2 separate regions of the Homo sapiens genome follow, and region 1 is linked to region 2. A link means that fine-mapping ties the variant in region 2 to the expression of a gene that starts in the linked region. Tissue or cell type: liver. Region 2 holds a variant in brackets; the other region holds the start of a gene. All regions are shown on one strand. Distances are from middle to middle.

The links. PIP is the estimated chance that this variant, and not a neighbour inherited with it, causes the effect.
Region 1: SMIM24 starts here. The variant in region 2 is fine-mapped to the expression of SMIM24 in liver (GTEx, PIP above 0.99).

What each region holds. Positions count from the first base shown.
Region 1 is chr19:3,475,828-3,483,023 of GRCh38, forward strand. It overlaps SMIM24 (small integral membrane protein 24), which reads right to left and starts at 4,698. Exons shown (of 4, transcript NM_001136503.2): 1 at 4,570-4,698; 2 at 2,991-3,102; 3 at 2,592-2,651. The coding sequence starts at 4,636. SMIM44 (small integral membrane protein 44) reads right to left here. Exons shown (of 2, transcript NM_001395954.1): 2 at 6,283-7,196. The coding sequence ends at 6,977. It overlaps LOC105372246 (a long non-coding RNA gene), which reads left to right and starts at 7,151. Exons shown (of 5, transcript XR_936264.2): 1 at 7,151-7,196.
Region 2 is chr19:3,832,460-3,837,459 of GRCh38, forward strand. It overlaps ZFR2 (zinc finger RNA binding protein 2), which reads right to left. Exons shown (of 19, transcript NM_015174.2): 2 at 2,314-2,524; 3 at 1,205-1,319. Among named protein-coding and RNA genes, the nearest start is that of ZFR2, 34 kb to the right of the region's middle. The variant C/T (reference allele first, on the strand shown) is at 2,406.

The DNA.
Region 1 (7,196 bases), 360 kb before region 2:
TGATGGATGGTGGATGGAAGGATGATAGATGGATGGGTGGATGGATGAATGAATGGGTTGGTGGATGAATGGATGGATGGGTGGGTGGATGGATGAGTAGATAAGTAGTTACATGAATGGACTGCTGCATGGAGGTTGAATAAATGAATTGGAAGATAAATGAATACATTGCAGGAAGGAGAGACTGATGGATCAGTGGATGGGGGTATGCAGAATGGAGAATGGGTGGATGGGAGTATAGATGGATGTATAGATCAATGAATGAATGTATAGGTGGATGGATGGATGAGTAGATAAGCAGTTGGGTGAATTGATGGTTGCATGGAGGGAGGGACAGATTAATAAGTAGATGAATGGATGAATTGGAGGAAGAAGAGAATGACATACCAATGGATAGGTAGATGGAGGATGAATGAGACTGTAGGTGGGTGGATGGATCAATGAGCTAATGGATAGATAGACTGATGGATGGACAGTTGGAGAGTGAAGACTGCATAGTTCGATGGACGCATAGGTGGGTGGGTGCGTGTATCAGTGAGTGGACAGATCAATGGGCTAATGGGTAGGTGGACTGATGGATGGGTGGTTGGAGGGTGAGGACTGCACGGGCAGACTGATAGATGGATGTACAAGTGGATGGTTGGGTGGATGGATGGAGGATTGAACAAGGCAGAAAGGAAGCTACAGGTACAGGTGCACAGGTGGGATCCAGATCCCCCAGTACATCCTGGGAGTAGGAATCATATTTTACTGGGGCTGAGCCAGGTCTTAGACAAAGCCACCACTCAGGTCCTCTCCCTCAGGCACATCTTGGACTCAGCTGAGACTCTCCCAGCCAGGCTGGTCACCTCCCAGCTCCCACTCTCCTACTCCTGTCCCCAAGCCTTTGCCCAAGACAGAGCCCCCAGCCCTGGATGGATGGATGGATGGATGGATGGAAGGATGGATGGATGGATAAATGGGTAGGTGGATGGATGGCTGTGTGGGTGGATGAATGAGTGAATAGATGGGTGATGGATGGATAGGTGATGGATGGATGGATGGATGGATGGATGGGTGGATGGGTGGGTGGGTGGATGGATGATGGATTGATGGGTGGATGAATAGATGGGTGGGTGGATGGATGGTGAATGGATGGCTGATGGATAGATGGGTGGGTAGATGGATGGGTGTGTGAACAGATGAGTGGGTGGGTGGATGGGTGAGTGGGTGGATGGATTGGTGAATGGATAGGTCGGGGGGTGGGTGAGTGAATAGATGGGTGATGGATGGATGGATGGATGGATGGATGGATGGATCATGGATGGTCGGTGGATGGATGGTGGGTGGGTGGATGGGTAGGTGATGAATGGATGGGGGTGGGTGATGGATGGATGAGTGATGAATGGATGGGTGAGTGGGTGGACGGGTTGGTGAATGGATGGGTTGGGGGATGGGTGAGTGGATGGATGGATGGATGGATGGATGGATGGATGGATGATAGACAGATGGTGGGTGGATGGATGGTGGGTGGGTGGATGGGTAGGTGATGGGTGGATGGGTGATGAATGGATGGGGGGTGATGAATGGATGGGTGAGTGGGTGGATAAGTGGTAGGTGAATAGATGGGTGGGTGGGCAGCTGGGTGAGTGAACAGATGGGTGATGAATGGATGATGGATGGATGGATGATGGATGGATGGATGGTGGGTGATGGATGGATGGGTGAGTGGGTAGATGGGTGAGTGGGTGGATGGGTGAGTGGGTGAATGGGTGATGGATGGGTGAGTGGGTGGATGGGTGAGTGGGTGGATAGGTGAGTGGGTGAATGGGTGAGTGGGTGGATGGGTGAGTGGGTGGATGGGTGGGTGATGGATGGATGGATGGTGGGTGATGGATGGATGGTGGGTGATGGATGGATGGGTGAGTGGGTGAATGGGTGAGTGGGTGGATGGGTGAGTGGGTGAATGGGTGAGTGGGTGGATGAGTGGATGATGGATGGATGGATGGTGGGTGAGTGGGTGAATGGGTGAGTGGATGAATGGGTGAGTGGGTGGATGAGTGGGTGATGGGTGGATGGAAGATGGAGGTCTGCATCCCTGAGTCCTCTGTGGGAATCCTCAGGTTGGGAGGCAGTCAGAGCCATAGGAGGCACTGAGTCCAGGTGGGTCGCCCATACCTAGGCCTTGTACAGACACCTACACAATCCTACACCACAGTCTTCTTCAACAGGTATTTATTAAGCACCTCCTGTGTTCCAGGCCCAATGCTGGGTATGAGGACACAGCCAGGACAAAAGCTAAGTTGCCTACACAACTGGAAGGCACCACGTAATGTCTCAAAATTAGTGAACAACTAAGACAGCTCCACTGGTGATAAGCATGAATCAGACTTGGGGCTGGGGACAGTGTCAGGAAGGCTGGTGGCCAGGCTGGAAACCCCTGACTAGGGACTGGAGGAGGAGAAGGAGCTGCCAGAAGATACAGGAAAGGTGAAGATCCCAGGGCAGGAATGTGTTTGAAGGATTCAGGACAGCAAGGTCATCTGCGCACACCCATTCCCCCACCCCGAGGAGGGGTTCACACAGACCCCCAGCATCCGCACGCATAGTACCTCTGGTCCTGGTATAGGTTGGACTCCATTCTGAACGTGGTCTCCTCCTCGTCCTCAGCCCTGCAGAGATAAAGGGAAAGGTGGAAGGGGGCGGGAGAGGAGAAAGGGGGCGGTAAAGGGAAGGAAGCGGTGTGACAGCCTCAGCCTCTGTCCCAACCTCCCAGCCGGGGCTCATGAACCCCAGGACGCAAGGAAGGGCTGGGCTGCCTGGCTCGTTGTCTTGGGGAGACGGGCGGGTGCAAGCCCGGGATCTGGGCTCTGAGAGTAGAGGTTGGAGGAGCAGCAGGGAAATGGGAGACCTTCGGACTTTGAGGCTGGTGATGGGGGTACCAGAGAGGGTTGGGAAGCTGGGGGTGGGGGCAGGGCTGTGGGGGCAGCGGGGTGGGGGCGGGCACCCACCTGGCCTTGGAACACCAGAGGCGGTTGGCCAGCAAGACCAAATAGACGATGAACAGGAAGCCGACTACCGCAGCCAGGCCCACCAGCCACGGCTTCAGGCGATGCTCCGTGGCTGCAGGAAGTTGGGGAGGTTCGACTCAGAGGAAGAAAAGGTCAGAAGACCCCCTTCCCCCACCACCCTAGCAAGGAGAGAGAGAAGGTCACTGGGGGTGCTCCGACAGAGGGGGTATTGGAAAGGGACGGAGCTTCAGAGACCTGGATGGCGTAGGGGGGTCGGGAGGGTTTAGAGAGGGGGAGGGTACCTTACCAGAGTGGGAGGGAGCCTGGGGGCCCAGAGAGGGGAGGGGCTTATAAAAGAAGGGGGGCTTAGAGGGGACGGAGTTTACAAATCAGGAGGGCTCAGAAGGGGCGGGGCTTATAATGCAGGCAGAGGCTCAGGGGGAGGGGCTTATAAAGGCGGACCTCAGAAGGGCGGGGCTTATGACAAAGGAGTGGCTCAGGGGTGGGGTTTATAAAGGAGAACAAGCTCAGGGGAGGGGCTTATGAAGGAGGAGGTGGCTCAGATGGGGAGGGCTTATAAAGAAGAGTCTGGGGGGTTGGGGCTTACAACAGAGGAGCTGTTGGGGGGAGCTTATAAAAGGAGGCAGAGGCTTAGAGGGAGGGGCTTATAAAGGAGGAGCTCAGAGGGGAGGTGCTTATAAGGGGAGAGGGTCTCAGAGTGGGAGGGGCTTATAAAGGCGGCAGAGGCTCAGGAGGAGGGGCTTATAAAGAAGGAGGAGCTCAGAGGGGAGGGGCTTACAACAGACGAGGGGCTCAGGGAGGGGTCTATAAAGGATGAGTGAGAAGGAGGGGCTTACAGAGGAGGAAGAGGCTCAGATGGGGAGGGGCTTGTGAACTAGGGGGCTCAGAGTGGGAGGGGCTTGTAGAGGAGGCAGAGGCTCAGGGGGAGGGGCTTATAAAGAAGGAGGAGCTCAGAGGGGAGGGGCTTACAGAGGAGGAGGGACTCGGGGAGGGGTTTATAAAGGAGGGAGAGTGAGAAGGAGGTGCTTACAAAGGAGGAAGGGGCTCGGATGGGGAGAGGCTTGTGAACTAGGGGGCTCAGAGGGAGAGGGGCTTATAGAGGAGGCAGAGGCTCAGGGGGAGGGGCTTATAAAGAAGGAGGAGCCCAGAGGGGAGGGGCTTACAGAGGAGGAGGGGCTCGGGGAGGGGTTTATAAAGGAGGAGGAGTGAGAAGGAGCGGTTCACAAAAGAGGCGGGGACTCAGATGGGGAGGGGCTTGTAAAGGAGGCCCGAGCTCAGAGTGGGGCCGAGCTCAAGGCGGGGGGTTCAGCCAGGTGTGCTCAGAAGGGCTGGAGAGGGGAAAGGCTCGGGTGGGCGGTGGGGGGTCCCTTACAGAGGAGGGCAGAGCCCAGCGAGAGGGAGGCCGGGCGGTACTGCGGGGGTTGAGAAGGGCCTCCAAGCCACTCTTCCTTTTCTTCCTGCCCCCTCTCCTTTTTCTCGCCATGGAAAATTGGGAGATGGTGATCACCTGACCAACTCCCCTATCCCGCGACGCCCCCTCCCGCCCCCCTGCACCTACCCTGCTGGGCCTCCACCGGGGAGAGGAGCAGAAACTCCAGCACCAGAAGGGCCCCCAGGGTCTCCATGACGGTCGAGTGAGCCAGCAGCCAGCCAGCGGCGGTCCCGGGTCGGCGTCCACAGGTTTGGTGTGGGCGAGGCCCTGCCTCCCCGTGATAAGGCACAGGCGGTCCCCGGGCGGGGGATGCCTGAGACCTGGGAGCGGGGCCCGCCCCTGGCACCACCTGATTGGGCATCCTGCCCCTCCCCTGCCAGCTCCTGCCCCATCGCTCTCCCTCCGGGAGGCCAGACTCTGGACCTGTGTAACAATTAACTGAGGGAGTCCCTCCTCCCTGCACCCTGCCCTGGGGACCATCAGCCTCAGGGCCACCCCTTTGTGATCCCTGCTGCAGGGGCTGAGCTGAGATGGCTGCGACCTCCCGTCCCGGCCCAGGCCCCGTGCCACTCTGGACACAGGGGGAACTCACAAATACAACTGGAATATCTTAAGAAGGGTGCGCCCACCCAGTGCCTCACACCTGTAATCCCACTACATTGAGAGGCCAACGCGGGCAGATCCTTGAGCCTAACCTGGGCAACTTAGTCAAGCCCTACCTCTACAAAAATAGAAAAATTAGCCAGGCGCGGCGGGCACCTGCAGGCCCAGCTACTAGGGTGTGCTGAAGTGGGAGGATCACTTGAGCCCAGGAGTTTGAGGCTGCAGCCAGTTATGGCCGCACCACCGCACTCCAGCCTGGGTGACAGAGGAAGACCCTGTCTCAAAGGAAATAAAAAAAATTAGAAATACAAAGAGTTACCAAGGCTGGGTACAGTGTCTCACGCCTGTAATCCCAGCACTCTGGGAGGCTAAGGCGGGAGAATCGCTTGAGGCCAGGAGTTCCAGACCAACCTCCTCCCGTCTCTAAAATAAAAAATGTAAAACTTAGCTGAGCATGGTGGCCTGCACCTGTAGTCTCAGCTACTCAAAGAGACTGAGGTGAGAGGATCGCTTGAGCCCAGGAGTTCGAGGCTGCAGCGAGCTACGACTGCACCACTGCATGCACCACCGCACTCCAGCCTGGGCAACAGAACAAGACCTTGTCTCTCAAAGCAAATTTGAGAGTCACCTTTTGTGCTCTCAGAGTACACATGAGGCTCCGTGCTCGGCAATTTCACAGATCGCATTTCCTTTTCTTAACACCCCGTGAAATGGTGCCGGTCTCATTGTGCCCAGGAAAGTCAAGGTCACGCAGCAGGTCTGACCTGGGATTTGAAGCCGGGTCTGCCTCGCCCCCAGCTTATCCTGCCTCGCCCAGGCTCTTGGCCCCTGAGGACCCACAAGCAGCCATGGGAGCACACAGGGACAGGGAAGGTGTGCAGAGGCCACATGCCCGTGGTCCACCTGCAAACCGGGACGCTCTCACGTGGGGATGCCCGGGAGCGTTGATGACTCAGGCTCCAGGCTCTCCTGTCCTCAACCTTGGTCCCTCGGCTGATTAGATAGTGGGCCCTGCCCGGGCGAAGGGGGACCCCGCCCCAGCTGACACGGGAGCAGCCATGGCCCAGACGAGTGGTAGGAAGGCCCGGCGTCATCGCACAGGTGTTTATGGAGCGCCTGCTGAGTCGCTGTCACTTCCTCTCTTCCGGAGGTCTGCGGATGACCGCTGAGCAGACCGGCCACTCAGCAGGATGGGGCTCACACATCCCAGCCCCAGGATGGCCACAGGTCTGCTTGAACCAGCCAGGCAGGCATCTATTAAACTCTGACTGTGTATCCCGTCTTGTGCAGGGCTTGGAAGAGAAGGAGGCCTTGGTGCTGTCTGGGAGCTCTCGATCTGATTAGGAAGTCAGGACCACCCCCCAGAGACAAGCAAACCCAGCAGCCGAGGCGGGGGCTGGAGAAGATTTGGAGGTAGGGGAGCCCAGCAGAGGGGGTGGGGGCAGGACCCGCCTTGGAGATCCTGCCCTCCAAAGTCAGTCAGTTGTCTGGGCTTTTTCTGAGAAAAGCACTCTGTGCTCTGAGACCTTGGCGAAGCCACTTCATCACTGCGTGCCTCGGTTTCCCCATCTGTTAAGTGGGGGCGATCAGTCCTACCTCGGAGGATTAAATGAGATACTGCATAGAAAAAGCCTGCTCTGCACAGCAGCAGGTACACGCTAAGCACTCGGTAAGGTTGGCCGATAATATTACAACGTTTTAAATCGCCCTAGTGTTTCTAATTCACAGTTTGCTGACGGCTTGGCTGAGGCTGAGCCGGGCAGGCTCTGCGTATGTGAAAGTCGCCAGCGTCCAACCCCCGGAACCTGCCGGCTGGGAAGGAGAAAGCCGTCCGCTGCGACCGGGCAGCTCAGGGTTTGCAGAAAGGGCTCCGGCGCGCGTAAGTTCTGTCTACACGACCGCCAAAGCGTCCGGAACCCGGATTCAGGATTCAAGTTGCCATCAGCTTCCAGAAGGAGCTTCGGGATGGGGGGTCCTTGAAGGCAATGGAGGGGCGGCGGGGCTCCGGGGGAGGCGGGGGTTCAGAGGGGGCTCCCTCCCCACCCCCGCCGGCGTCCTCCTCGCCCTGCCAGGCCAGGGCCAGCTGCAGGTCCAGCCCCTCCAAGTCCTCGCCGGTCAGGCTGGGGCGCAGCTCCCGGGGTGCGGCCTCC
Region 2 (5,000 bases):
TACAAGCATGCGCCACCCTGCCCGGCTAATTTTTCTATTTTTAGTAGAGATGGGGTTTCACCATGTTGGCCAGGATGGTCTCGATCGCTTGACCTTGTGATCCACCCGCCTCTGCCTCGCAAAGTGCTGGGATTACAGGCGTGAGCTGCTGCACCCGGCCTTTATTTTGTTTTTTTTTTTTATTTTTTATTTTTTAGAGACAGGGTCTTGCTCTGCTGCCCAGGCTGGAGTGCAGTGGTGCGATCACAGCTCACTGCAGCTCAGTTCCTGGGCTCAGGCGAACCTCCTACCTCAGCCTCCTGGGTAGCTGGGACTACAGGTGCACACCACCATGCCTGGCTAATTTTTTTGCATTTTTTGTAGAGACGGGGGTCTTACTATGTTGCCCAGGCTGGTCTCGAACTCCTAGGTTCAAGCAATTCTCCCACCTCGGGCCTCCCAAAGTGTTGGGATTACAGGCGTGAGCCACCGTGCCCGGCCTCTAGGATGGTTAACATGTAACTTTCACGGGGTGCAGTGGCTCACGCCTGTAATCCCAGCACTTTGGGAGGCCGAGGCAGGTGGATCACCTGATGTCAGGAGTTCAAGACCAGCCTGGCTAACATAGTGAAACCCCGTTTCTACTAAAAATAGAAAAAAATTAGCCAGGCATGGTGGCGCGTGCCTGCAGTCCCAGCTACTTGGGAGGCTGAGGCAGGAGGATTGTTTGAACCTGGGAGGCAGAGGGTGCAGTGAGCTGAGATCGCACCACTGCACTCCAGCCTGGGCAACAGAGTGAGACTCCGTCTCAAAAAAAAAAAAAAAAAAGAAAAGAAAAGAAAAGATGTAACTTTCAGGCCGGGCATGGTGGCTCACGCCTGTAATCGCAGCACTTTGGGAGGCCAAGGCGGGCGGATCACGAGGTCAGGAGATGGAGACCATCCTGGCTAATACTGTGAAACCCCGTCTCTACTAAAAATACAAAAAATTAGCCGGGCGTGGTTGCAGGCACTTGTAGTCCCAGCTACTCGGGAGGCTGAGGCAGGAGAATGGCTTTAACCTGGGAGGCGAAGCTTGCAGTGAGCCGAGATCGCACCACTGCACTCCAGCCTGGGCAACAGAGCGAGACTCTGTCTAAAAAAAAAAAAAAGTAAGTTTCCCAAGGTTTCCCTGTGCTGCGGGGAGCGTCTCCTCGTTCCCAGCCCCGACCCTGCAGATGGCTCACCTGGCTGGCCGGAGTCTGCGGCTGTCATGCGCCCAGACTGGAGGGCAGCAGACTGGAAGTACGGCCTGTCCTCATAGCTCCTGGCAGCTGCTGACTGTCCGTAGCTGTAACTGTCCTATGTGGGGGTTTCGGCAGGAGAGAGACAGAGAACGGAGGAGAGCAGCTCAGGCGGTGGGTGCGACGCGCCCTGCCACACTGCACTCTGCACTTAGTCCTTCCTGCAGCGCTGGCTCCTAAGCGTCTGCCCAGGACCAGGCCCTGGCCCGGAGGCAGGGGGCAGGGGGCAGGGGGCAGGGGGCAGGGGGCGTGGTTGACACAGCAGCTGTCATGGAGCCGACACTAATTTCCAAGAGTTCGACTGCAATTTACAAGAGGACGCTTGGTGCGGCAGGAGAGGGCGGGTTTGCAGGGAGAAGCCCCCGAGGCCTTGGCAAGGAAATGGAGAGGGGAGGAAGAGGGTGGGGTCAGGTGGGTGCTGAGCTTGAGTGACAGGGTGGCCTCTGATGCCGTTGACCGACACAATCTGGGGACGAGGTGCGGGTGGCAGAGCTGGGAAATTGGAGCATGGTCACGGGGGACATCTTTGCGACACCAAGTGGGAACACGGTGGCTGGATCTGCAGCCTGAGTGCCTCGGTTGGGAAGGTGAGGTCGTCAGCACCCAGGTGCACCCCACACACCACAGACTCCCTCTTAGAAGGTAGGAATCTGGAGCGTGGGGAAGGTGGGGTGAGTCCTGGTCTCTCTGGGCCCAGGTGGCCGAGGCCATCTGCCCTGACCAGGGAGGGGTCCTGTAACCCAGGCGACCCTCCTCCTCCTTCATAGTCACTGCTGAAGCTGGGACAAAGCTCTGTGCGCCGTCACTGTCCCCACTGCCCCGACGTGGAGGTACGCATGCGGCCTGTCCCCGAGAGCAGTGGATTCTTTCGGAAGCGACTCTGCCCTGATTTCTCCCCACCACGGGTACGCAATGCCAGCAGAAGGGTCCCGAAGGAAGGATCACGGTTAAGAGGCCTGGGAGAAGGAGTAGCTGTGGGAAGCCCACCGCTCTCACCCATGCAAGGCGACCCACGTTTCCCGGCAACGCTGGTCAAAGAAAGGACTGGATACCTGGTAGGTAGCCATGGTGGTGGCCGTGGGGACGGGCTCCTGGGGTCGGCTGCCGTAGGCGAAGTCCTGGCCGGAGTGGGGCTGGTATCCAC[C/T]GTACCCTGCCGGGGCAGCTGGGGGAAAGGCCGGGTTCACGGCAGGGTCCATCCCAGGAGTGGGTTGTGCAGTATAGCTGGCCCCCACAGTGGGCAGGGGAAGGGTCGGAGGCTGGGCGCTAGAACCACAAACACACACCAAAGCCCCACCAGGTTAGAGCGAGTTCTCAGGTGCACTGAGTTGACGGTGTCAATTCCAGCCACCACTGGACCTGAGCTGCCCTGCTTGGTGGAGACCCTCCTAGGAGCCCAGGCACGGCCGGAAGCACTTTACACAAATTAACACCGTCTCACAACAACGCTGTAATGCTGGGCCTATCACTGCACCCAATTTACAGATGAAGAAACTGAGGCACTGTCAGTGGCAGAGCTGGGACTCGAACCCATCTGACTTCCGCTTTGCAGATGATCTACTTGTGTGGCAGGGCTTTTTCTCCATGTCAAGATTCTTCAAAGAAAATTGAACTTTTTTATTTTTTGAGACAGGGTCTCGCTCTGTTGCCCAGGATGGAGTGCAGTGGCACGATCTTAGCTCACTGCAACCTCCGCCTCCCAGGTTCAAGCAATTCTCCTGCCTCAGCCTCCCGAGTAGCTGGGACTACAGGCGCCCACCACCACGCCCAGCCTTTTTTTTTTTTTTTTGTATTTTTAGTAGAGACAGGATTTCACCGTGTTAACTAGGATGGTCTCAACCTCCTGACCTCATGATCTGGCCGCCTCGGCCTCCCAAAGTGCTGAGATTACAGGTGTGAGCCACCACGCCCGGCCAGAAAATTGAACTTTAACAGCACAGTGTCTGGCCGGGTGTGGTAGCTCATGCCTGTAATCCCAGCACCTTGGGAGGCCAAGGCGGGAGGATTGCTTGAGCTCAGGTGTTTGAGACCAACCTGGACAACATAATGAGACCTTGTCTCCACCAAAATTAAAAAAAAACAAACAATTAGCGAGTGTGATAGTACACGCCTGCAGTGCCAGCTACTCAGGAGGCTGAGGTGGGAGGATGGCTTGAGCCCAGGAAGTAGAGGCTGCAGTGAGCTATGATCTCACCACTGAACTCCAGCCTGAGCAACAGAGTAAGACTCTGTCTCAAAACAAACAAAACAAAAAACAGTACAGCTGTCCCTCACTATCTGCAAGGGTTGAGTTCCAGGACCCCCTCAGATGCCAAAATCCATGGATGCTTGAGTCCCTGACATAGAACGATATAGTGTTTGCATATAACCTAAACATATCATCCCATATACTGTAAATCATCTCTGGATTACTTATAATACCTAATACAATGTAAGCACTATGCCGATGGCTGTTACATTCCATTGTTTAGGGAACAATGAGAAGGAAAAACCCCATACATGTTCAGTACAGATGCATTTTTTTCCCAAATATTTTCCACCCTTGGCTGGTTGAATCCATGGATGCAGTGCCTATGAATGCGGAAGGCCAACCGTATTTTCTCTTTAAAAAAAAAATTTGTTTTTGAGAAAGGGTCTCGCTCTGTCACCCAGGTTGAAGTTCAGTGCTACGATCACAGCCCACTGCAGCCTCAACTTCCCAAGCTCAAGCAACCCTGCCTCAGCCTCTCAGTAGCTGAGAACACAAGTGTGAAACCATGCCCAGTTAATTCTTTAAAAAATTTTGGTAGAGGTGGGGTCTCACTATGTTGCCCAGGCTCTGACTGTATTTTTTTTAACAGAACAAGTCAGTCCACCTGAGTATTAAAATAATTACTTTAGTTAGCACTAAACTAATAACTCTTCACTAAAAAGAATGAGTCTTTGTAGGGTTTGCACAGTGCCGAGGCCTTTGTCCACATGGCCTCATTCACCCTTCAGAGGACATGCGGCACCATCGCTCCCCACGGTCTAGACGAGAAAACCTCCAAGGAGGACCAGGGGCTCATGTCAAGTGCAGGGGAGGGTTCAGACCCAGATCTTTCTGACCCCAATGCCCCTTGTTCAGCTAAATATCAGCTACCCAGTAGACAGTTCTGGAGTCTAAAAGCCCATTTGCCAGGGAAAAGTATCAGTAAAGATTTTAGCCCAATACCGCTATGGATATATATTAAAAAGTGAACCTCCAACCCCATAGGGGAAGGAGCAAGGTATGAGGGTCATTTTGGGGAAAATGGATTAGAAGGCAAAGAGGCTCTACACCACCTGGCCCCCAACCGGGCCCTGCTGTAGACTCCTGCCAGCCAGGTGAGTCATCCGCAGTGTCAGGGCCGGGGACAAGGAGACATTCTCTGCGGCACAGGAAAACCTCATGAAAGTTACAGCTTTTTTTTATTTTTTGAGACAGAGTCTCACTCTGTCACCCAGGTTGGAGTGCAGTGGTGCAATCTCGGCTCACTGCAACCTTTGCCTCCTGGCTTCAAGCATTCATTCCTCTAGCATTTTCACACACTTGTCCTGAGTGTCCACATGCTGGACATTCATGAACACCATGACTGTGGACACTTGATGGACACCATGACACAGACACCCGATGAACACCATGACCATGACACTCGATGAACACCATGACTGTGACACTCGATGAACACCGTGACTGTGGAACTTGATGAACACCATGACTGTGGAACTTGATGAACACCAT